Regions from separate parts of the Homo sapiens genome. Here regions 1 and 3 are each linked to region 2. Evidence: fine-mapped expression QTL. Tissue or cell type: whole blood. Region 2 holds a variant in brackets; each other region holds the start of a gene. All regions are shown on one strand. Distances are between the middles of the regions.

Region 1 (8,102 bases), 27 kb after region 2:
GTGTTGGTAGGGCTGCAGTCCTTTTTTTTTGAGTCAGAGTCTCGCTCTGTTGCCCAGCCTGGAGTGCACGATCTTGGCTCACTGCAACCTACCCCTCCTGGGTTCAAGCAATTCTCCTACCTCAGCCTCCCAAGTTGCTGGGATTACAGGCGCCTGCCACCACACCCAGCTAATTTTTTAAATTTTTAGTAGAGACAGTGTTTCACCATGTTGGCTAGGCTGATCTCAAACTCCTGACCTCAAGTAATCCGCCTGCCTTGGGCTCCCAAAGTGATGGGATTACCGGTGTGAGCCGTGGCACCCAGCTGGGCTGCAGTCCTTTCTGGAAGCTTCACAGGAGAATCTGTTTTCTTGCCTTTTCCAGCTTCTACAGTTACCTACATTCCTTGGCTCATGGCCCCTTCCTCCATCTTCAAAGGCAGGAATATTGCATCTCTCAGATCATTCTTCCCTTCCCTAGCCACACCTCCCTTGGGCTCTGACATCAGGTGAGAATGATTTTATGCTTTTAATGATCCATGTGATTATGTTGATACCACATAGAAAATCCAGGATAATCTTTTCTTCTTAAGGTCCATACCCTTAATTGTCATGGTGATCAGCGACTATCCAGGACCAGAGGTGCAGACAGTAAAAAGAATGTTTACTCGGCTCACTGCAACCTCCGCTTCCCGGGCTCAAGTGGTTCTCCTACCTCAGTCTCCTGAGTAGCTGGGATTACAGGCGCCTGCCACCATGCCCGGCTAATTTTTGTATTTTCAGTAGAGATGAGGTTTCACCATGTTGGCCAGGCTGGTCTTGAACTCTTGGACTCAAGTGATCCACCCGCCTTGGCCTCCCGAAATGATGGGATGACAGGCATGAGCCACCGCACCTGGCCTACCGGGTATCATTCGAACACCCAGCTAACTCCCTACTCTAAGTCACACCTGAGCCATTTTATCATGGGGGCTGTCAGAGGCACTGCTGTTTTTCACTGAAGCCCATACCCAATCCCTCGGCCTCGTGTGCTTTTCCCTCACCCACTTCAAAGGCCCGTGGCTTTGGGACGCCTCTCCACCTCATTAGTCATTCCCTCCCCTGCCCATCGCGTCGAAACACAATGCATTGTGGTTATTTATGTCCAGAGCTGGTTCCTCAACTAGGCTGTCAGCTAGCCAGTGCAGAGGGTGTGTGTTAGTCACATTTGTATCATCAGCCCCCGATGGGCCATGGCTACATACTTGTTGAGTGAATAACACAAGGGGCATCTTTAGCATTTCTTTGTGGGGCCCAATCTCCTCAGCGAAGGTACAGGGAATTCTCCACACTAACTAGGCCAGCTGGGTCTGGGTGGCATTTTATGACTTTTTTGTTGTCGTTATTTTGCGATGGAGTCTTGCTCTGTCACCCAGGCTGGAGTGCAGTGGCGTGATCTGCAACCTCCGCCTCCCAGATTCAGACGATGCTCCTGCCTCAGCCTCCTGAGTAGCTACGATTACAGGCACGAGCCATCAAGCTGGTTAATTTCTATTTTTTTGGTAAAGATGAGGTTTCACCATGTTGCCCATGCTGGTCTCAAACTGGGCTCAAGCGATCCACCTGCCTTCATCTTCCAAAGTGCTGGGATTACAGGTGTGGACCACCACACTCAGCAGAGTAAAAAATGTTTAACAGCTTTATTAATATAGGATTAATATGCTGTACAATATGCCATTTAAAGTATACAACTCAGTGTCTTCAGTATATTCACAGGGTTGTGCAACCACCACCACCATCTATAATAATTTTAGACAATTTCTGTTTCCCAAAGAGAAACTCCCTACTTATTAGCAATCACTTCCCATCCTTGCCCCCAACCTAGCCTTCTGTCTGTATCCATAGATTGGCCTCTTCTTGGACATTCTATATAAAGTGAATCATACCATATGTATTCTTTTTTTTTTTTTTCTAGAAGGAGTCTCATTCTGTCACCCAGGCTGGAGTGCAGTGGCGTGATCTCGGCTCACTGCAACCTCCGCCTCCTGGGTTCAAGCAATTTTCCTGCCTCAGTCTCCCGAGTAGCTGGGATTACAGGTGCCCCCCACCACACCCAGCTACTTTTTGTATTTTTAGTAGAGACGGGGTTTCACCATGTTGGCTAGGCTGGTCTCGAACTACTGACCTCATGATCTGCCTGCCTCAGTCTCCTAAAGTGCTGGGATTACAGGCGTGAGCCACCACGCCTGGCGATTTTTGTATTTTCGGTAGAGACAGGGTTTCCCCATGTTAGCCAGGCTGGTCTTGAACTCCTGATCTCAGATGATCCACCCACCTCAGCCACCCAAAGTGCTGGGATTACAGGCGTGAGCCACCTGGCCAGGCAATATATATTATTTTGTGTCTGGCTTCTTTCACTTATTAATAGCATCATGTTTTGGGAGGTTATCCATCTTGCAGCATTTATCTATCAGTCTGTCTATATATATTTTTTGCAACAAGGTCTCTCACTCTGTAGGCTGGAGTGCAGTGGTGTGATCATAGTTCCCTGCAGCCTCTACCTTCTGGCTCAAGCGATTCTCCTACCTCAGCCTCCCCAGTAGCTGGGACTAGAGGTGCTCACCACCACACCTGGCTAACTTTTCGTAGTTAGGGGGTCTAGCTATGTTGCCCAGGCTGCTCTGGAACTCCTTGTCTCAAGAAATCCTCCTGCCTCTGCTCCCCAAAGTGCTGAGATCAAGCCTGGCCTCCTTTTTATTTTTATATTTTTGAGACAGAGTCTTGCCCTGTCTTCCAGGCTGGAGTGCAGTGGCACGATCTTGGCTCACTGCAAGCTCTGCCTTCTGGGTTCACGCCATTCTCCTGCCTCAGCCTCCCTAGTAGCTGGGACTACAGGCGCCCACCACCACGCCCGGCTAATTTTTTTTGTATTTTTAGTAGAGACGGGGTTTCACCCTGTTAGCCAGGATGGTCTCGATCTCCTGACATCGTGATCTGCCCGCCTCGGCCTCCCAAAGTGCTGGGATTACAGGCGTGAGCCACCGTGCCCGGCCAGCCTCCTTTTTAAGTAGTTTTCCATTGCACAAATGTAGCACATTTTATTCATCCACTCATCAGTCTCTAGTTAATGCATCTGTTGTATATGTTCAGATTGGCTGGGGTTCAATACCCACTGGACAACTTCCTAGATGAGTGACTTTTGGTAAATCATAATCTCTCCAAGTCTGCCTCAGTTTCTTCAATTATAAAATGTCAATAATAATGCAATGTACCTCATAGAGAGTCATGGTTGTATTGCCACAGTAATTAATAAAGTGCCAGGAACTTTATAAGGATTATTTAACACCCTTATTATTTACAAAGTAGGCAACAGAGGCTATTGTGGTGGTTCACACCTGTAATCCCAGCACTTTGGGAGTTGGAGGTGGGAGGATCACTTGAGGCGAGGAGTTCAAGACCAGCCTGGGCAACACAGTGAGACCCCCATCTCTACAAAAAAATTAAAAAATTTTGTAGCTGACTCTTTGGACAATAAAGAATTTTATTTTAGAAAATTAGCCAGGTGGCTGGGTGCAGTGGCTCACGCCTGTAATCCCAACACTTTGGGAGGCTGATGAGGGTGGATCACAAGGTCAGGAGTTCAAGACCAGCTTGGCCAAGATGGTGAAACCCCGTCTCTACTAAAAAAATACAAAAATTAGCTGGGCATTATGGCGGGCACCTGTAATCCTAGCTACTGGGGAGGCTGAGGCAGGGAACTGCTTGAATCCAGGAGGCAGAGGTTGCAATGAGCCGAGATCACGACACTGCACTCCAGCCTGGGCAACAGAGTGAGACTGATCTCAAAAAAAAAAAAAAAGAAAAAGAAAAAGAAAAAAAGAAAATTAGCCAGGTGTAGCGGAGCGCACCTGTGGTCCCAGCTACTCTGGCAGGCTGGGGTGGGAGGATTGCTTGAGCCCAGGAGTTCAAGGCTGCAGTGAGCTCTGATTGCACCACTGCATTCCAGCCTGGGCGACAGAGCAAGACCCTGTCTCTTAAAAAATAAATAAATAAACTGCAATGTTTCTGGCAGCCCAGATGCCACCAGCCTCACTACTCTCTGAGAGGTGGGATTTTAACATGCAAAGGCCCACTAACCCGATCACGTCTCACAACTTCAGCTGATTAATACTTTGTTAAAACCTAGACCACGAAAACAGACAGAGCCCGGCGAGGTGGCTCACGCCTGTAATCCCAACACTTTGGGAGGCCGAAGCGGGTGGATCACGAGGTCAGGAGTTCAAGACTAGCCTGGCCAAGATGATGAAACCCCGTCTCTACTAAAAAATACACAAATTAGCTAGGCGTTATGGCGGGCGCCTGTAATCCCAGCTACTCGGGAGGCTGAGGCAGGGAATTGCTTGAACCTGGGAGGCAGAGATTGCAGTGAGCCGAGATCGTGCCACTGCACTCCAGCCTGGGTGACAGAGCGAGACTCTGTCTCAAAAAAGAAAAAAAGAGGCTGGGCACGGTGCCTCACGCCTGTAATCCCAGGACTTTGGGAGGCCGAGGCGGGCGGATCACGAGGTCAGGAGATTGAAACCATCCTGGCTAACACGGTGAAACCCCGTCTCTACTAAAAACACAAAAAATTAGCCGGGCTTGGTGGCAAGCGCCTGTAGTCCCAGCTACTTGGGAGGCTGAGGCAGAAGGAGAATCGCTTGAACCCAGGAGGCGGAGGTTGCAGTAAGCCGAGATCCAGCCTGGGCGACAGAGCGAGACTCCGTCTCAAAAAAAAAAAAAGGTTAAAGAAAAAAAGAAAAGAAAACACAAGATAATCCTGTCCGCAAACGCTTAGCAGTCTTAAATCGGCCTGGTGGAAGGATGCAGGGACACTCCCCCACCCTGCCCCCCGAAAAAGGGGAACGCGCAGCGCGAGGTTCCGGGTCCGCCAAGCTCCCGGCATGCAGCGCGGCGATCCCGGCGAGCACCTTGGCGCGCGGAGCTGGCACCTTGGCGCTGTTGGTGGCGGCGGAGACAGCTGTGAAGTGTGAGGTTCTTTGTCTGCTGGCAGCTAGGGGCGACGAGGCGGGACGTCATGGAAGTGTAAGTCTTCTCGGGCGCGTCCCTTTTCGCCCGAGGAGCCCAACGGTTTGACCGCTGAGAGCTGAGAGCCGAGAGCCGTGGGGACTGGGCGACCCTCGTACGGGAGTGAGGGCAGCGGGCCGGCCCTGTCCGGGAGGGCCGCGGGGTGGTGACGGGGACGAACGGGACTCTCGCTTTGCCCTTCCGAACCTTCGCTTCCCCTCCACGCCGTGTCTGGTGCGGGGCCGAGCACTTCCGTGTCCGGCTGCCTTTCAATGTGCCCCCTCCTTCTCTCATTCGTTTACCAGCGTTTCTGGGTCACAGTGCGGGGGTGGAGCCCAGTCTGGTATCCGACCCCGGACTTAGAAGGCTATAAAGGCCTGAGTCTGTCCGCCCTGAAAGTAGGTGGAGGAGAGACGAATCAGGGCCGGGTAGAGCTCTGCTTGCAGCTGTAGGCCCCTGGAGAGCCCTCGGAAGAGCTGCCCTCGGAATTTGATGGGAGCAGTAAACACTGTGAGGGAAGGGGCTGGTTTTGGGGTGGAGAAGGGAAGGACGTGAACCAGGACTGGGACCAGAGAAACAGCAGGGGGTGTGTGGGTGTGTGTGCAAGGCGAGGGTAAAAGATTTTCTGACAGTTTAACTCCACGTGGTCTTTTCCATGCTTGCTCGTTGCGCCTGGTGCAAATGGAAGATTTTGCATCTACTCTGAATGTGGGCTTTATACGGTTGATATTAATTTGTAGGTATTACTATCTTGTGTTCTCTTTGAACTGATTATTTGATACAGTTTCCTTTATGTTCTTTTGCCTCATGTTTAATGGTTATATGTACTATGGCATTTCACATTTTTACATTTTTAATTAATTGTTTTTTCTTAAGAAACAGGGTCTTGCTCTGTCCCCCAGGCGGGGTGTAATCATGGTTCACTGCAGCCTCACTTTCTGGACTCAAGCAATCCTGCTTCAGCCTCTTCAGTAGCTGGGACTACAGGCCCACGCCATCACTCACCGCTAATTTTTTAAAAAAAGTTTTGTAGATGCAGGGTCTCACTACAGCCCAGGCTGGTCTCCAGCTCCTGAGCTCAAGTGATCCTCCTGCTTTGTACTCCCAAAGTCCTGGGATTGCAGGCGTGAGCCACTTCACCTGGCCTCTTCCGATTTTTTTTTAAACACAATATGTCTGTGTAACTGAAATGAAAGGCTCATGAAACAATAATGTGTGGCGTACACTCTCATATTGTCTATTTTTTATTAATATGAATGGGGCCAACCGTGGTGGCTCACACCAGCAATCCCAGCACTTTGGGAAGCTTAGGCAGAAGGATCACTTGAACCTGGGAGGTGGAGACCAGCCTGGGCAACATAGGGAGACCCTGTCTCTGCAAAAAATTAAGAAGTTAGCTGGGTGTGGTGGTTCATGCCTGTAGTCTCAGCTACTTACGAGGCTGAGATGGGAGGATCACTTGATCCCAGGAGGCTGCAATGAGCTGAGATAGAGCCACTACACTCCTGCCAGAGTGACAGTGTAAGGCTCTGTCTTAAAAAAAAAAAAAAAAAAAAATTGAACCACTGAATTAATTTTGCAACCCACTGATGGGATTTCATCTGCAACCTAAAAAACTATTCATATAATTTACTCTAGTCCAAGCCATCATTACTAATTTTTCCCTCTTTACTAGAGCATTTCCTGTGAGCATACAACCCTGCTTTAGAGAATTCATCTTAGAAAATCCTCCGTCCCCACATACATGTCCCCCTCTTACTCCATTTCTGCTTCCCATCCCAACAAAACTTCTTGAAAGTGCTGATTAGCCCCTCATTCTCTCAGCCATTCTGTTGGGCTTTCATCCTCACTGGTCTACGGGAATGACTGTTAAGATTACCTGAACCAGCGGGGCGTGGTGGCTCATGCCTATAATCGCAGCACTTTAGGAGGCCGAAGTGGGCGAATCCCCTGAGGTCAGGAGTTTGAGACCAGCCTGGCCAACATGGCATAACCTCCTCTCTACTAAAAATACAAAAATTAACTGGGTGTAGTGGTGGGCGCCTGTAATCCCAGTAACTCAGGAGGCTGAGGCAGGAGAATCGCTTGAACTCGGGAGGCAGGGGTTGCAGTGAACCAAATTGTGCCACTGCACTCCAGCCTAGGTGACAGGGCAAGACTGTCTCAAAAAAAAAAAAAAAAAAAACCTGATCCCTCCATCTTGTCAAATTCAGAGGTTGATTTTCTGGCCTCAACTTTCTTGATCTCTCAGCAGTGGTTAATACAGAAACTCTAGAAACTTTCCTTTTCTTGTGATGTATGTTCCTTTGCGTATTTCCTCCTACATCAAGGACTACTTCAGTGTCCTTCCCTGGGTCCCGTTCCTCTCTTGCTTGATGTCTAAGTGTTGAGTGGTATCTTAGGGCTCAGTCCTGGGACCCTTTCTCTCCACACTCTGTCATTTCACCCATCTATGTGCTGATGGTTCTCAAAGGTATGTTTCTAACCTTCTTCTCATCATCTATCCAATTGCATAGACCAAAAATCTAGCCCTCTCTCTTCACTCCCTAAATCCAGTCCATCAGTGGTCCTGTTGTTTCCACCCTAGAATATATTTTGAATGCAGTTACTTTTCACCATCTCCAATGTTAGCTTTGTAGTCCATCACCTCTGGGCTGGATTAAGCAATAGCCTTTGAGTGTTCACTCTTCCCCAGCCTCCATTCTGTTCTCCACATGGCAACTGGAGTGATCTTAAGTAATGATTGGAACATGTCGCTCCTGGGTAAAACCCTTCATTGACTTTCCATTGTACTTAGAGAAAATCTCCATCTCTTACCAGGACCTGCAAGACCCTGTAAAACCTCACCTACTCCCCAGCCTTACCACTTGCCACTCTCCCAACCTCCCAGACACACACTTTCCACTGACAGGTATTTCCTTCTCCTCTAACCTTCTAAGCACTTCCTGAGGACCATTGCGTTGTGGTACCCTCTGTCTGGTATACTTTCCTCCTCGCCCTCGTCCTGTTCTCTTCTTTTTATTGTTCTTTTTTTAGTTCGCTTTTGAGATGGAGTCTTGCTCTGTCACCCAGGCTGT
Region 2 (8,102 bases):
TGACCCTGGGTCTCCCTTCACCTCCAGGAGCTCATTGGTGCAACGGCAGGGAAGCTGCACACGGGACGGAGCCGGAATGACCAGGTGCTTTAGCCCCTCCACCCCCTGCTCCGTGTTGTCCCAACCTTGAGGAGCCCAGGGGGCAGTTAGAGTTCTGCAGCGGTCCTGGCTCCTCAGGGAAGCAACACATCGGCCTCCCTGAGCACCATCTCCTCCTTGCACAGGTGGTCACAGACCTCAGGCTGTGGATGCGGCAGACCTGCTCCACGCTCTCGGGCCTCCTCTGGGAGCTCATTAGGACCATGGTGGATCGGGCAGAGGCGTGAGTCCTACAGGGACACCCAGGGGGCAGACAGAGGTGTGATGGAAGCCTGAACAGGAGACCTAGGGGGCAGGGGTGAACAGCGTGGGGGTGCCAGGCCCTGGGGGACAGGGGCATCCCAGAACTCCAGGATCGAGGCAGAGCAGCCAGGAGTGGGCCATTTCCTGCAGGCCCCAATACTCCCATGCCAGTCTAGCTCAGCAGGCAGAGAAGACTAACCCTTCGTGGGGCTGGGTGCGGTGGCTCACGCCTGTAATCTCAGCACTTTGGGAGGCCGAGGTGGGTGGATCACCTGAGGTCAGGAGTTCGAGACCAGCCTGGCCAACATGGGAAAACTCTGTCTCTACTAAAAATACAAAAATTAGGCAATGTGGTGGTGTGCGCCTGTAATCCCAGCTACTCGGGAGCCTGAGGCAGAAGAACTGCTTGAACCCGGGAGGAGGAGGTTGCAATGAGCCGAGATCGCGCCATTGCACTCCAGCCTGGGCTACAGAGCGAGACTCCTGTCTCAAAAAAAAAGAAAAAAAAAAAAGAAAACTCACCATTTGCAGATTTGAAGGCAGGAAGCTAAGCCAAGCACAGCTAGCTTGGCTGTGCCTGGAGCAGCCAGAGTCACTCCCCACACTGCCTGTCCCCCAGATCCCCCATCCTAAGCTTCGCCTCCCCATCCAGCCCATCTGGCAAAAGACAGAGCCAAAGGCTGCCTCCTGCTGGCCTCATTTCAGGCTTTGGCTTCTGGGACCTGGTGTCTTTGGGACTGGATTTGTTCCTTGCAGACCTGGACGAAGAGCTGCTGAGAAGTCTCCATGTGTTGTCAGAGACCCCTCCTCTTCCTCAACTCCCTGTGACCCCTGTTGTGCAGACTTGGGGGAAAACAAGGGCACAAGAATTGTCACCCAGCAGGTGGTGTGGGGCTGCTAGGAGGAACAGGGAGTGTCTGCTACTGAGTTCAGGGTTTCTTTAATTTTTTGTTGTTGTTGTTTGTTGTTGTTTTTTTTTTTTTGAGACAGGGTTTTGCTCTGTCACCTAGTCTGGAGTGTAGTGGCGCTATCTGAGCTAACTGCAAACTCTGCCTCCTGGGTTCAAGTGATTCTAGTGCCTCAGCCTCCCAAGTAGCTGAGATTACAGGTGTGCACCACCATGTCCAGCTAATTTTTGTATTTTTTTCAGTAGAGATGGGTTTTGCCATGTTGACCAGGCTGGTCTTGAACTCCTGAGCTCAGGTGATCTGCCCGCGTCGGCCTGCCAAAGTGCTAGGATTACACCCATAAGCCACTGCGCTCAGCTTAATTTTTAAATTTTTAACTTTTTAAATTGTCTTTAGAGATGAGATCCTGCTCTGTCACCTAGGCTGGAGTGCAATGGCTTGGTAATAGCTCACTGCAGTCTCAAACTCCTGGACTCAAATGATCCTCCCACCTCAGCTTTCTGAGTAGCTAGGACCACAGGTGTGCACCACCTGTGAGACAGAGTCTTGCTCTGTTGCCCAGGCTGGAGTGCAGTGGCGTGATCTCCACTCACTGCAACCTCTGCCTCCCAGGTTCACGCCATTCTCCTGCCTCAGCCTCCCGAGTAGCTGGGAGTACAGGTGCCCACCACCACGCCCGGCTAATTTTTTGTATTTTTAGTAGAGACGGGGTTTCACCATGTTAGCCAGGATGGTCTCAATCTCCCGACCTCATGATCCACCCACCTCGGACTCTCAAAGTGCTGGGATTACAGGTGTGAGCCACCGTGCCCAGCCGCGAATTCTTTAAATTTTTTGTAGAAACAGGGTCTCACTATGTGGCTCAGGCTGGTCTCAAACTCCCGGCCTTAAGTGATCCTTCCCTCTTGGCCTCCCAAAGTGCTGGGATTAAAGACTTGAGCCACCGTGCCTGGCCTTGAGTACAGAATTTCTTCATGGGGTGATGAAAATGTTCTAAAATTGGTTGTGGTGATGGTTGTACAGTAAAGTGTAAACTTTAAATGAGTAAATTGTGAATGATATCTCAGTAAAGCTGGTTTATTTAAAACAACAGGCCAGGTGCTGTGGCTCACGCCTGTAATCCCAGCACTTTGGAAGGCTGAGGCGGGTGAATCACCTGAGGTCAAGAGTTCGAGACCAGCCTGGCCAACATGGTGAAACCCCATCTCTACTAAAAATACACAAAATTAGCTGGGTGTGATGGTGGGCACCTGTAGTCCCAGCTACTTGGGAGGCAGGAGAATCTCTTGGACCTGGGAGGTGGAGGTTGTAGTGAGCCGAGATCACGCCACTGCATTCCAGCCTGGGCAACAAGAGCGAAACTCTTTCTCAAAAACAACAACAACAAAAAAACAGGCCAGGTATGGTGGCTCATATCTGTAATCCCAGCCCTTTGGGAGGCCAAGGCAGGAGGACTGCCTGAAACCAGGAGTTTCAGACCACTCTGGGCAACATAGCAAGACCCCATCTTTTTTTTTTTTTTTGAGACGGAGTCTCGCTCTGTCGCCCAGGCTGAAGTGCAATGGTGCAATCTCAACTCACTGCAAGCTCTGCCTCCTGGGTTCATGCCATTCTCCTGCCTCAGCCCTCCTGAGTAGCTGGAACTACAGGCGCCCACCACTACGCCCGGCTAATTTTTTGTATTTTTAGTATAGATGGGGTTTCACCGTGTTAGCCAGGATGGTCTCGATCTCCTGACCTTGTGATCTGCCCGCCTCGGCCTCCCAAAGTGCTGGGATTACAGGCGTGAGTTACCGCGCCTGGCCACAAGACCCCATCTTTACAAAAAACTAAAAATTAGCTGGGCATGGTGGCATGTCCCTTTAGTCCCAGCTACTCAGGAGGCTGAGACAGGAGGATCGCTTGAGCCCAGGAGATCGAGGCAGCAGTGAGCTATGATCATGCCACTGCACTCCAGTCTGGGCAACAGAACGAGACCTTGTCTCTAAAAATAAAAACAAAACAAAACAACAAGAAAACAGGACCATCACTCACAGCACCTCTGCCTCTGCCCTGCCTACTTGAATGAGGTGCAGGGCATCTCACCTGCTCAGAGCAGCCCTTGAATGAGCCCCAGCTATTTCTAGGGTCCTCAAACGAAACCTCCCACGGCCAAGTCATACCCAACATGGGCCTCCTCCCCTATTCTGGCCCCTGCTCGGAGATGCTGAGTGACAGAGGCTGGACTTGGGGTGTTTCTGGCAAAGCCTCACTGCAGGAAGCCCCACAGCTCAGGCCCAGTCCTTGGTTCACACGGTCCCACTTCCAGCTTCTTTTGCCCTTAAGACTGATTTGTCCCTGGGAGATCACCAGATCCCTCATTCAGGTGGAGTGCTGCAGCGTGACACTTTTTCCAGGGGTGACCCAGGCCTGCAGGGTTCCAGTGTCACAGGCAGGCCTTGCATGAGCCTCCACCCGAGCTTCTGCTCCTCCTCTCCCACAGGGAACGTGATGTTCTCTTCCCGGGGTACACCCATTTGCAGAGGGCCCAGCCCATCCGCTGGAGCCACTGGATTCTGAGGTGAGCCAGGTGAGGTGCAGGGGCTGTGCTAGAGGGGAGGACCCCGGCTGCCCTGACCCTCCTGCCCCTGGCTTCCCACAGCCACGCCGTGGCACTGACCCGAGACTCTGAGCGGCTGCTGGAGGTGCGGAAGCGGATCAATGTCCTGCCCCTGGGGAGGTGGGTGAGGCTCCAGTGCCCCGAGGGCCTGGTGGGGGTGGCTGCTGCATAGCCTTAGGGATTGACAGAGCTGGGAAGTGCAGAGTGGGACAGAAAACCGCCTTATCTGCTCAGCGGGGGACTCTGCATGGAGCCCCAGCTCTCGCTAAGGTGACGACCAAGCCATTGAATGTGTCTGAGCAGGGCCAGAGCCCTCCAGCAAGGCTCCTGGCAAGCCCAGCCTGCTGCCCTCAGCCTGACATGTGGGAACATGTGTCAGGAGACAAGTGTCCTGCACCCAGGGTGACTTAGTGCTTGGGGACAAGTGTTTTGTGGACACTTGGGGACAAGTATTCTGTACCCAAGGAGACTGGGCCAGGGAAGAGGCTAAGCGCCAGGTGGTTGCCCTGGCAACCAGGACTTGGTTCTCTGTGTGTGCGTTCGTGTGTGTGTGTGTGTGTGTGTGTGTGTGTGTGTGTGTGTCAGGGCTGCCTGCCAGGAGCCCTGGTCACCATGAATCCCTGTCCCTGCAGTGGGGCCATTGCAGGCAATCCCCTGGGTGTGGACCGAGAGCTGCTCCGAGCAGGTGAGACGTCCTGCCCCTCCTCCCCAGGGAGAATCACCCTCAGCACCCGCCAAGACCTGCAGACACACCTGAAACCAGAGGGCAGGGGCCTGTGGCTCCTGGTGAAACCTTCATTCATTGCCT[A/G]TGGGCACTGAGGTCATCAAGTTCAGGGGTCACTCATGGCAGGGATGCCTGGTACTGAGAGACTCAGGGCTCCTGCCTCCCTCCTGGGACTGTGCAAAAGATCCCTCCCCCCAGCTGTTGCCCCACCCTGATCAGGGGAGGGGGCTGGGCAACCTAGTTGGGGGAGAGGGGGCCACTCCCTGTCCTCCAGCTTAGCCCTGCTTCCTCCCACCCCCCCAGAACTCAACTTTGGGGCCATCACTCTCAACAGCATGGATGCCACTAGTGAGCGGGACTTTGTGGGTGAGTCCTGGGGAGCCAGTCCCCTGCCCTGTGCCTCACTTTAGTCCTTCAGCCCAGCTTCTCTCCAGTTTCCTCCCACACCTCCACGGACAGGCTGGTTGTGGTGATATTGTACACTGAAGTATAAACCTTAAATGGGTAAAGTGGGTGGGGCATGGTGGTTCACCATGCCCAGCACTGGCCAACATGGTGAAACCCCATCTCTACTAAGAATACAAAATTTAGCTGGGTGTGTGGTGGCAGGTGCCTGTAATCCCAGCTACTCAGGAGTTCTGAGGCCAGAGAATCACTTGAACCCAGGAGGCGGAGGCTGCAGTGAGCCAAGATCACGCCAGTGCACTCCAGCCTGGGCAACAAGAGCGAAACTCCATCTCAAAAAATAAAATAAAATAAAATAAAAATAAATAGGCCAGGCATGGTGGCTCACGCCCGTAATCCTAGCACTTTGGGAGTCCGAGGCAGGTGGATCACATGAGGTCAGGAGTTTAAGACCAGCCTGGCCAACATGGTGAAACCCCATCTCTACTAAAAGCACAAAAATTAGCTGGGCATGGTGGTGCATGCCTGTAATCCCAGCTACTCGGGAGGCTAAGGAAGGAGATTCGCTGGAACCTGGGAGGTAGAGGTTGCAGTGAGCCAAGATTGTGCCACTGTACTCCAGCCTGTGCATTGGGAGCGAGACTCCATCTCAATAAATAAATAAATAAATAAATGGATAAATTGTATGTGAGTGATAACTCAGTAAAGCTGGTTTATTTAAAACAACAACAATAACAAAAAACACGCTAGGTGCAATGGCTTACGTTTGTAATCCTAGCACTTTGGGAGGCCAAAGCAGAAGGATTGCTTGAGCCCACAAGTTTCAGAACAGCTTGGGCGACATAGCACGACCCCATCTTTGCGAAAAATGAAAATTTAGCCGGGTCCCCCCACCGCCTAACCTCCTCCTGCCCCCTGTATGGTCAGGCTGGGTGGGGATGGGAGAGGCCTGGTGACTGGGAACCTTTTCTCCCAGCCGAGTTCCTGTTCTGGGCTTCGCTGTGCATGACCCATCTCAGCAGGATGGCCGAGGACCTCATCCTCTACTGCACCAAGGAATTCAGCTTCGTGCAGCTCTCAGATGCCTACAGGTAAGCCCTGAACTGCCACCTCCATCTGCCGCTGCCGGCCTCTGTATCCCCCGCCGCCCGCGGACGTGGCTGCCTTCCTCCCCGTCCCACCCCTCCGCCAGACCTGGCCATTGCGGCGCTGGACCAGCCAAGGGTCCAGCCCCTTCAGCGCCAGCACCTCTGTCCCCAGCACGGGAAGCAGCCTGATGCCCCAGAAGAAAAACCCCGACAGTTTGGAGCTGATCCGGAGCAAGGCTGGGCGTGTGTTTGGGCGGGTGAGCAAGGCAGGGGGAGGGGCGGGGCCTCTGGGCTGATGGTGGGTGGCCAGGGGGGCAGGATCCCGGGTCCAGCCCCTGTGCCTCCCTCTTCCCGCAGTGTGCCGGGCTCCTGATGACCCTCAAGGGACTTCCCAGCACCTACAACAAAGACTTACAGGTGCGAGGCCGGGGGAGGCCTGGCTAGTACGTGCCAGTTCTCAGGGCTCTGGCACACTCAGGCAGGGCCCCACCCCGGGATTGCCATACATCCTCCCATCCTGTGCACACAGCTCCATCCGTGGCTGCCCTTGAACTCTCTGCCCTTCCTTTGTTGGGGTATTGAGTGTTCTTCCCATGGAAGGCAGTGGGGATGCCTCAGTGGGGGGGTGGGGCTGTGGGGACCCTGGGTGCCAGGGGGCTGCTAGGCCCTCACCTCCTGCCATGTGCCTCCCAGGAGGACAAGGAAGCTGTGTTTGAAGTGTCAGACACTATGAGTGCCGTGCTCCAGGTGGCCACTGGCGTCATCTCTACGCTGCAGGCAAGACATCACCCCCCTGCTTCTCCTCCCCTAGGTCCCAGGCACTGGGGTGGGCATGCGGGGAGGGTGGCCTTGGGAGGAGGTGAGGTGGGGCTGGAGGACCTGGGGCAGGGAAGGAGAGGTGTGCTCGCTCCTGCTCCTGGGGAACAGGGAAAGGACAGAAACTGCTGCCATGCAGTGGAAGTAGATGAGACTCAGGGGGCCTGGGGCCTGTCAAATGGCCTGACCAGAACTCTTTAAAAAAAGAAAATCTAAACAAAAGGCCAGGTGCAGTGGCTCATGCCTGGAATCTCACACTTTGGGAGGCCGAGGCAGATGGAGCACTTGAGGTCAGGGGTTTGAGACCAGCCTGGCCAACATGGCGTAACCACGTCTCTACTAAAAATACAAAAATTAGCCAGGCGTGATGGCCCACACCTGTAATCCCAGCTACTCAGGAGGCGGAGGCAGAAGAATAGCTTGAACCCAGGAGATGGAAGTTGTAGTGAGCCAAGATCATGCCGCTGCACTCCAGCCTGGACCACAGAGTAAAACTCCATCTACAAATATATAAATTAAATTAAATTAAATTAAATATCTTTAAAAAACATTTTTTAGAGACAGGGTCACTCTCTGTCGCCCAGGCTGGAGTGCAGTGGTGCGGTCGTAGCTCACTGCAGCCTCAAACTCTTGGGCTCAAGTGATCTTCCCACCTCAGTCTCCAGAGTAGCTGGGACTACAAACATGCGCCACCACGCCTGGCTAATTTTTTTATTTTTTGTAGAGACAGGGTCTCCCTATGTTTCCCAGGCTGGTCTCAAATTCCTGGCCCCAAGCCATCCTCCCACCTTGGTCTCCCAAGGTGCTGGGATTATAGGCATGAGCCACTTTGCCTGGCTGATTTCTTTTAAAATCAATTATTATGGGAAATTTATGTATATAACAGCTAGAGAATGCATAATGAACCCTATGTACCGACACCCAGCTTCAATGATAATCAACTCACGGACATCCTGGCTCCAGCTGTCTTTACCCACAGCTCTCTCCCACTCCCTTACCCCCTTATTTTGAAGCAAATTCCCATCATCACATCATTTCATTCCTAAATAGTTCAGGATATGTCTTGAAATCAGTGTTTCTTGGCTGGGTGCAGAGCCTCATGCCTGTAATCCCATCAATTTGCGAGACTAAGGTGGGCAGATCACTCGAGGTCAGGAGTTCGAGACCAGCCTGGCCAACATGGCGAAACCCCGTCTTTACTAAAAATATAAAAATTAGCT
Region 3 (8,102 bases), 120 kb after region 2:
TTGTGTTTTTAGTAGAGATTGGGTTTTACCATGTTGACCAGGCTGGTCTCGAACTACTGATCTCAAGTGATCTGCCCTCCTCAGACTCCCAAAGTGCTGGCATTACAGGTGTGAGCCACCATACCTGGCTGATGCTCTCTGGTGAGGTGATCTAATTCTGGGCTGATCACCTGGAAAGGTAAAGCCCGGGAGAGAAAATAGAAACGCAGAAAGAGTGTTCAGAATCTATGAGGCTCATTAAATTACACAGAGGAATAGAAATGTGGTGTGAATCAGATGTGCATACAGTCTTGGACAGTTTTTCAGGAACAAGTTTTCCTTTAAAAAAAAGTTATGTATTCATTCCTTGTAAATAGGTAATCCAGGCCAGGCGTGATGGCTCATGCCTATAATCCCACCACTTTGGGAGGCCAGCGTTGGAGGACTGCTTGAGCCCAGGAGTTCAAGACCAGTTTGGGCAACATAGCAAGATCCCATCTCTACCAAAAAAAAAAAAAAAAAAAAAGTAAAAGGCTGGGCACGGTGGCTTACACCTGAAATCCCAGCACTTTGGGAGGCCAAGGTGGGCAGATCACATGAGGCCAGGAGTTCGAGACCAGCCTGGCCAACATGGTGAAACCCTGTCTCTACTAAAAATACAAAAATTAGCTGGGCGTGGTGGTGGGCACCTGTAATCCCAGCTACTCGAGAGGCTGATGCAGGAGAATTGCTTGAACCTGGGAGGCAGAGGTTGCAGTCAGCCGATATCATGCCACTGCACACCAGCCTGGGCAACAGAGCGAGACTCTGTCTAAAAAAAAAAAAATTAGCAGGGAGTGGGTGGCGTGCACCCGTAGTCTTAGCTACTCAGGAGGCTGAGGTGGGAGGATCACTTGAGCCCAGGCGTTTGAGGCTGCAGTGAGCTATGACTATGCCACTGTACTCCAGCCTGGGTGACAGAATGGGACCCTGCCTATTAAAATAAGAAAAAAAAAAAAAAAAGGTAATCCAAGCATATAGCACATAATTTTTAAAGGTGCCCAAGAGTACATAGCAAAGAATTAGTCTCTTTCCTATTCCTGTGCCCAAGTCCTTCAGTTTCCCTCCCAGAGACAACACTGTTACCAATTTAATGTGTGCATCTTTCTTGATATTTCCTCTGAAAATAACAAGTGTGTGTGTATGTGTATTTTAAATATATACAAATGGGTATATTATACACACTGTTTTGAACTTTGTTCTTTTCACTTGAGTATATTTTGGAGTTTTTTTTCCTTCTAGCACATATACTATATGTGTTGGGGCAGATTTAGAAAGCAGGAAAAGTTCATCTTGTTCTCAATAACCCTGAGCTTTGCTTCAGATCAAGCTGTTTCTTACTTCTGCCTCAGAGGCTGGACCCTGTCAGAGGCTGGACCCTGCTTCTTACTTCTGCCTCAGAGTGTAGTCCCCGGATCACCTGAAGCTGTCCTGCTCAGTGAGACATCCTGCCGTATGACAGGTTTCACTGAAAGGATCGTGTCCTTTCTTCTTACTGAATTCCCCACATCTAGAATTCGTTCTCACAGTTTAATACGTGCTAGGAGGACCAGTGTCAGCTCCCTATGTGGCTACTCAATTCTTTTTCTAGGTCTTATAGGTGGGGGAAGGATTTTCTGGGCAGTGTGGGAGGTTATCTCAGATCTCCATCTCTACTTTGTGGAAAGAGCCTGGCAGGGGCTGTGCACCGGTGGTGGCTTCCGTATTACTGAGGCCATGGTGAGTCCTTTTCCTGAAGAGGTCTGAAATGTAGAAAGCAGAATGTAACTTGGCCCTTGCTTAACATTAAAAGACTGGTTAGAGGATCGCTTGAGGTCAGAAGTTCGAGACTAGCTTGGGCAACATAGTGAGACCCTGTCTCTAAAAACAAAACAAAAGGTGGGCGCGGTGGCTCACACCTGTAATCCCGTCACTTTGGAAGGTGGAGCCGGGCAGATCATCTGAGGTCAGGAGTTTGAGACCAGCCCGGCCAACATGGCAAAACCCTGTCTCTAATAAAACTACAAAAAAATTAGCTGGGCATGGTGGCAGGCGCCTGTAATCCCAGCTACTGGGGAGGCTGAGGCTGAAGAATCACTTGAACTCGGGAGGCGGAGGTTGTAGTGAGCCAAGGTCATACATACCATTGCACTCCAGCCTGGGCAACAAGAGCGAAACTCCATCTCAAAACAAAAACAAACAAACAACAAAATTGCTGTCTACCATCTTATAGTCAGTTTTCTTATCTATCTCTGTGTGTGTGTGTGTATACACCCACACACATATATACACACACACACATATACACACAAACACACACACACACACACATATATATAATTATTATTTTTTTTTTTGGGTGAGAGGCAAGGTCTCAGTCTGTCACCCAGGCTGGAGTGCAGTGGTGCCATCATGGCTCACTGCAGCCTAGAACTCCTGGGCTCACGGGACCCTCCTGCCTGGGTTTCCCAAACTGCTGGGATTACAGGCGTGAGCCACCACACCCAGTCAGCTGATTATCTGTAGAAGGAGATATCATATGTACCTTAGACAGTTGCTGTAAAGATCAAATGAGGTCCACACAAAAACTTCTTTTTTTTTTTTTTTTTGAGACGGAGTCTCACTCTGTTGCCCAGGCTGGAGTGCAGTGGCACAATCTTGGCTCACTGCAACCTCCACCTCCCGGGTTCACGCCATTCTCCTGCCTCTGCCTCCCGAGTAGCTGGGACTACAGGCGCCAGCCACCATGCCTGGCTAAATTTTTGTATTTTTAGTAGAGACGGGGTTTCACCGTGTTAACCAGGATGGTCTCGATCTCCTGACCTTGTGATCCGCCCACCTCGGCCTCTCAAACTGCTGGGATTACAGGCGTGAGCCACTGCACCCGGCCACACACAAAAACTTCTACACAAATGTTCATAGCAGCATCATGTATAATAGCCAAAAAAGTAGAAACAGATGTCCATCAATGGATTAATGGATAAATAAAAGATGATGTCCAGCCAGGCACGGTGGCCCATGCCTGTAATCCCAGCACTTTGGGAGGCCAAGGCAGGCAGATCACTTGAGGCCAGGAGTTCAAGATCAGCCTGGGCAACTTGATGAAACCCCGTCTCTACTAAAAATATAAAAATTAGCCAGGCATGGTGGCACATGCATGTAATTCTAGCTACTTTGGAGGCGGAGGCATGAGAATCACTTGAGCCCAGGAGGTGGAGGTTGCAGTGAGCCAAGATCACATAACTCCACTCCAGCCTGGGAGACAGAGTGAGACTCTTCAAAAAAAAAAAAGGTGATGTCTGTATAATGGACTATTATTCGGCCGTAACAAGGAATGAAGTGCCGATACATGCTACAACATGGATGAACTTTGAAAATATTATACTGTGTGCAAAGGAAGGTAGTTACCTTCCCGGGTTCAAGCAATTCTCCTGCCACAGCCTCCCCAGTAGCTGGGACGACAGGCGTCCGCCACCATGCCCGGCTAATTTTTGTATTTTTAGCAGGGACGGGGTTTCACTATGTTGGCCAGGCTGGTCTCGAACTCCTGACCTCAGGTGATTCACCAGCTTTGGCTTCCCAAAGTGCTGTGATTAGAGGCATGAGCCACCCCACCTGGCCTAGCAGAGAGCAATTTTGAATACAGCTGTTAGATTCTGCACTCATGCCTTCTCTAATCCATGTCACTGGAGTAGAAATAATTGCTTTGACAGAACCTGGTGTAGATGTGTCTGTAGGAAGAAACTGTAAAATGAATGGATCATTTTGTGAAATATCTGCCCTTTCCCCACCTTTCTTTTGCTTCTTTGCCTTTTTCTCCCTAGTTTTCATTTCTTTCTTTTAGGGCGTCAGCCCCCCACCTCTGTGGTTGGGAGGGACTATTGCACGTCTACACTCTCGTGGGGATGAAATAGTGTTTGAGTTCGTTATTTGCATTTGCGCGTTATCTCCCCGAGGAGATGACAGCTTCTCTGCCAGCAGCGGGCAAAGGTGGGCTCTGAAGCAGAGGAGAGGAATTATCAGGAAAAGCTCATTTTCTTCTCCTGTCCTAGGGTTTCACTGATGAAGGCCTCTGGGACACCCACGTTGGGGGTGGGGGCGGTGAGGACCGCCACCTGCCCGCGGCTCCCCTGCAGCCAGGCCACGCGCGCTGTTGCTAGGGCAACCACCCGGCCAGGCCTGCGGCTGCCGGGAAGCCCCCTCGGGAGCGCGCACGGGAAGGGCTGTGGGGGCGCTGGCCGGCTGCGACGTCAGACCCCCGCCCCTCGGCGCCTGCCGGACCCAGCTCCATTCCCAGCCGCGCCTCCTTCGGTGGGCAGCCGGCCGGAACTCACGAATCAGAGCAGCCGACACATCGTCCGCTCAGCCAATCGTAGCAGATGTGTGATCCCGCCACCTCCCCGGACCCTGGCGGTTGTCGCTGAGTTGGCGACCGCGGGAGACGCTGCTGAGGCGGCTTCGGTTGCGGGTCGGAACGGCGCTGCTCTGCGGGGCCGGTCCAGGCTGGCAGCTGCCGGCGCTTGGCGGTGAGGGCGGGCTCCCGAGTGGCCCCCCACCGAAGGCGGTGGGACCAGCGGCTGAGGCCAGGATGCCGTCCAGGCGGCGCGGCGGCTCCTCACTCATCCCAGGTAAGGGGGACGCGGCGCTCGCTGCGGCTCCGCTCCCCTCTCGTCTCCTCACACCCGGCCCTGTGCCCCGTCCTGGCATCCCTTGGCCCCTTGTCGCCTTCTGCTCGGTGCCTCCCGGTTGTCCAACCCCGCCCCCGAGCGCGGAGCCCCGGGTCTGGCCCGTCCGGCCCCTGCTCCCACGCCCCTTCCCCCATCGCCGGCATTTCCCGGGCTCGGCTTCGCCCCGGCCGCCGGGGCCTCTCCCCTCTGCCCTTTCTCTCCCTTCTCGCAGCCCTGGGACCACGTCCTAGCCCCGCAGTCCCCTGGGATGAGACCCTCGTCTCGCCGGGATCGGACATTTGCCCCCACGTCTACCCCGGCTGCGCTTCTTGAGCTCATCGCCCCATCATCCTACCCGTTGTACGTAGTCCTGTCTGCATGGCAGTCGCCCGCCCCGCTCCAGGTGTCCCTGGGTCTTGCCCTTTTGCTCCTAAGCACCTTCCTTTCCCAACTCGCCTCTTCTCCCCTCACTTTGACCACCCACCATCGCAATCTCCTCTTCCTTCTCTTACTCTTAAACCTCCAGACACTTTCCCACTCTCTGCAATGCCGGATTCATCGCTTTTTTTTTTTTTTTTTTTGAGAGATGGAGTCTCTATGTTGCCCAGGCTGGCTTCGAACTCCTGACCTCAAGCTATCCTTCTGCCTCGGCCTCCAAAGTGCTGGGATTACAGGCGTGAGCCACTGCGCCTGGCTCAGATCCATAGTGTAATATCTTCATTCGTCCTTACATGAGCTGCACCCCATAACATGTAAAGTCCCTTGCCCAGAGTCTAGCACACAGTAGGCCTGGCACATGGTGGGTGGTCACGCATGTTAGCCTCTTCCTCCTTCCAGGCGTTTTGTACTTTCCAGATGATGGTAGCAAGAAGTCCAGTGTCCACAGGGATTTGACTCTGCCTGAAGAATGGTATGGGAGATGGCAGGAGAAATTGGTGAACTCCAGTAAAGCGATTAAATGGTCAATTACTGCATTCATTAAGAAGAAACAATTCTGCTATCCGTGCCATGTATTGTTTTATGTTAATTGCCTTTGTAAAGGATTCTTAGGCTGCTAGTCAGCAGGCTTTGCGGTGTAATTACTCCCCATCCCCTCTCCATCCCCATCTGCAGTGTTTGGGTAACTTTCTTTTTAGGAAAGAAAGAGCCCCTACCTCCCAGCTAAAGTGGCATAGTATATAAGCAATGTGGTACGTGTTTATCTATTAGCTGGATAGTCCAGGGAGCTGCAATGAATTTTCATCTTTTAAGATCCAGGAGGAATCAGGATTTGGATTTCCTGGAATCAGCTGCTGTACAGACCAAATATGCTTAAGAATGAAACTTCTGACAAGTCCTCTAAGAGTGAGAGAGGAATTATCCACCCCTCTCCCTCCCCCTCTCCAAACACTCGCTCTTGGAGGAAATAGCGAGTCGATTTTTAAAAAAGAGTAAAATACGTTTGACTTTTTAAAATGATAAAAGCATTGTCATTGGCCCTGTACTATTCTTGCCACCTTTGCTCTGATGGTCTCAAGCCTGGACGAATCAGTCAGCTTTTTCTGCTCCTGGGCTCCCAAGGCAGACTGGCAAAAATCATATAACTAAACTGCTGGGTGCTGTTTCTGCACTTCTGGATCCTGGAGATCCTTTGACTTAACCTCTAGATTCCTCTTATGTCCTAAAATCTAAATGGCTGTTTATGGATCTTTACCATTTTTCTCTGACTCTTTGTCCTACTCTTGCCTTCTCTTCATTGCTTATTTTGCCACTTAACTTCACAGAATAAATTGGTGGGCATCAGCCCTGAACTCTTAAGGAGAGGTCATTTTTGTCTGTGCCTGTCTGTACCTGATTTCTAATATCCTTTCCTCTGATCTCAGAAGAAGAGGGGTCTTACTTTCGAAAGCTAACGTCTTTGATCTCTTCCCATATTATTATTTTTTCTGTTGGATGGTATACATCCTCAGGTTTCCACCATTCAGACCAAAACAAAGCTTTTCTTGATGCTTCCCTTTTCTTTTTTTATTCTTCTCAGATTAACGTGGCATTCCTTAGGGTTTCATTTTTGTTCTTTTCTCTAATTTCCTTGTGTGATTACACTTCCTTTCATGGCTTCAAATAGCACCTATATATTTATGGTTTTCAAAGACGTCTATTTAGTCCCCGTTTCTCTTGAACCTCAGGTTCTAATTTTCATCTGCCTACTGCATAGCTGTATGTGGATGCTTGATTACTTCAAATGTGGTTACCTTTTCCTTCCCTTTCTCTCCACCCATAGCCCCCTTTAAGCACATATACAAACATTACTATTTTAAGATCTTTACTCTAGAAACCTTAAAATCATCTTCTTTTCTCCTCACATTAAGTCTAGCATAGATCCTATTGTTGTTGCTACCTCAGATCTTTTTTTTTCCTCTCTTCATAACATCTTTTTTTTTTCTCTCTCTTCATTGCCAGAAGACTGGTTCAGACCTTGGTTATGCTTTTTCTGAACCTCTGGGTCCTGTAGTCTACTTAATCCTCCACGTTGCTGCTGGAATTGGTTCCATTTCTGAACTATCAATCTGATCATGCTGCTTGTTTTCTTTAAAAATTCTCATCAGCTCCCAAACCCTTAGCATGTTGAGCCAGTCCTTCCAAGCCTTCTGTAGCATGGGCGCATCCCCTTCCTGGGCCCTTTGTGATCCAGAGAAAAAAGCAGTAAAGAAACAGACCATTCACTACCGTAAAATCAAGACTGTGACAGAGATGACTACAGGGTGCTCTGGGAGCATCACCCTGGTGAGAGTGAGGACAAGTTTCTGTCTACAGGCACCTAGGACTTTTTCTGACTACCCCTCCTCCTTAGTTTGGGTTAGGTGACTTTTCTTTGTGTTTCCACAGCACCCTGTACATACTTCCATCTCCATTTTTACCACTTATACCATTTTTAGTTTTTTTTTTGTGACACAGTCTTGGTCTGTTGCCCAGGCTGGAGTGCAGTGGTAACATCTTAGTTCGCTGCAACCTCTGCCTCCAGGGTTTGAGTGATTCTCGTACCTCAGCCTTCCGAGTAGCTGGGATTACAGGCGCCTGCCACCACACCCAGCTAATTTTTGTATTTTTAGTAGAGACAGGGTTTCATCATGTTGGACAGGCTGGTCTCAAACTCCTGACCTCAAGCAGTCTGCCTGCCTCAGCCTCCCAAAGTGCTGGGATTACAGGCGTGAGCCACTGTGCCCAGCCCATTTTTACTATTTATAATGTTCTGTTTTCTTATTTTTCTCACTGACTTGAGAGTGAACCCTTTAAGAGAAAGAGTTGTGTCATATCTCATTGTATCTCCAGTTTCTAGCAAATTGCCAAGTACATAGTGCTCAGTAAACTAAGTTTTCAGAAGAGCTGAATCTAGACAAGGAAAGGTAAGGGGAGATGGGCAGTTTGGAAGAGAAGGTAACATATGGAAAAGTGTGTCTT

What was found. PIP is the estimated chance that this variant, and not a neighbour inherited with it, causes the effect.
Region 1: CRCP starts here. The variant in region 2 is fine-mapped to the expression of CRCP in whole blood (INTERVAL, PIP above 0.99).
Region 3: TPST1 starts here. The variant in region 2 is fine-mapped to the expression of TPST1 in whole blood (TOPMed, PIP above 0.99).

Annotation. Positions count from the first base shown.
Region 1 is chr7:66,109,928-66,118,029 of GRCh38, forward strand. It overlaps CRCP (CGRP receptor component), which reads left to right and starts at 4,920. Exons shown (of 6, transcript NM_014478.5): 1 at 4,920-5,043. The coding sequence starts at 5,036. RefSeq lists silencers at 3,796-3,986, 5,415-5,709 and enhancers at 4,633-4,762, 5,300-5,828.
Region 2 is chr7:66,082,853-66,090,954 of GRCh38, forward strand. ASL (argininosuccinate lyase) reads left to right here. Exons shown (of 17, transcript NM_000048.4): 5 at 28-84; 6 at 225-322; 7 at 3,733-3,810; 8 at 3,892-3,969; 9 at 4,482-4,534; 10 at 4,877-4,939; 11 at 5,955-6,069; 12 at 6,239-6,323; 13 at 6,424-6,483; 14 at 6,760-6,843. Among named protein-coding and RNA genes, the nearest start is that of ASL, 11 kb to the left of the region's middle. RefSeq lists an enhancer at 3,452-4,079. The variant A/G (reference allele first, on the strand shown) is at 4,658.
Region 3 is chr7:66,200,898-66,208,999 of GRCh38, forward strand. TPST1 (tyrosylprotein sulfotransferase 1) reads left to right here and starts at 4,437. Exons shown (of 6, transcript NM_003596.4): 1 at 4,437-4,625. RefSeq lists silencers at 4,060-4,329, 4,480-4,839.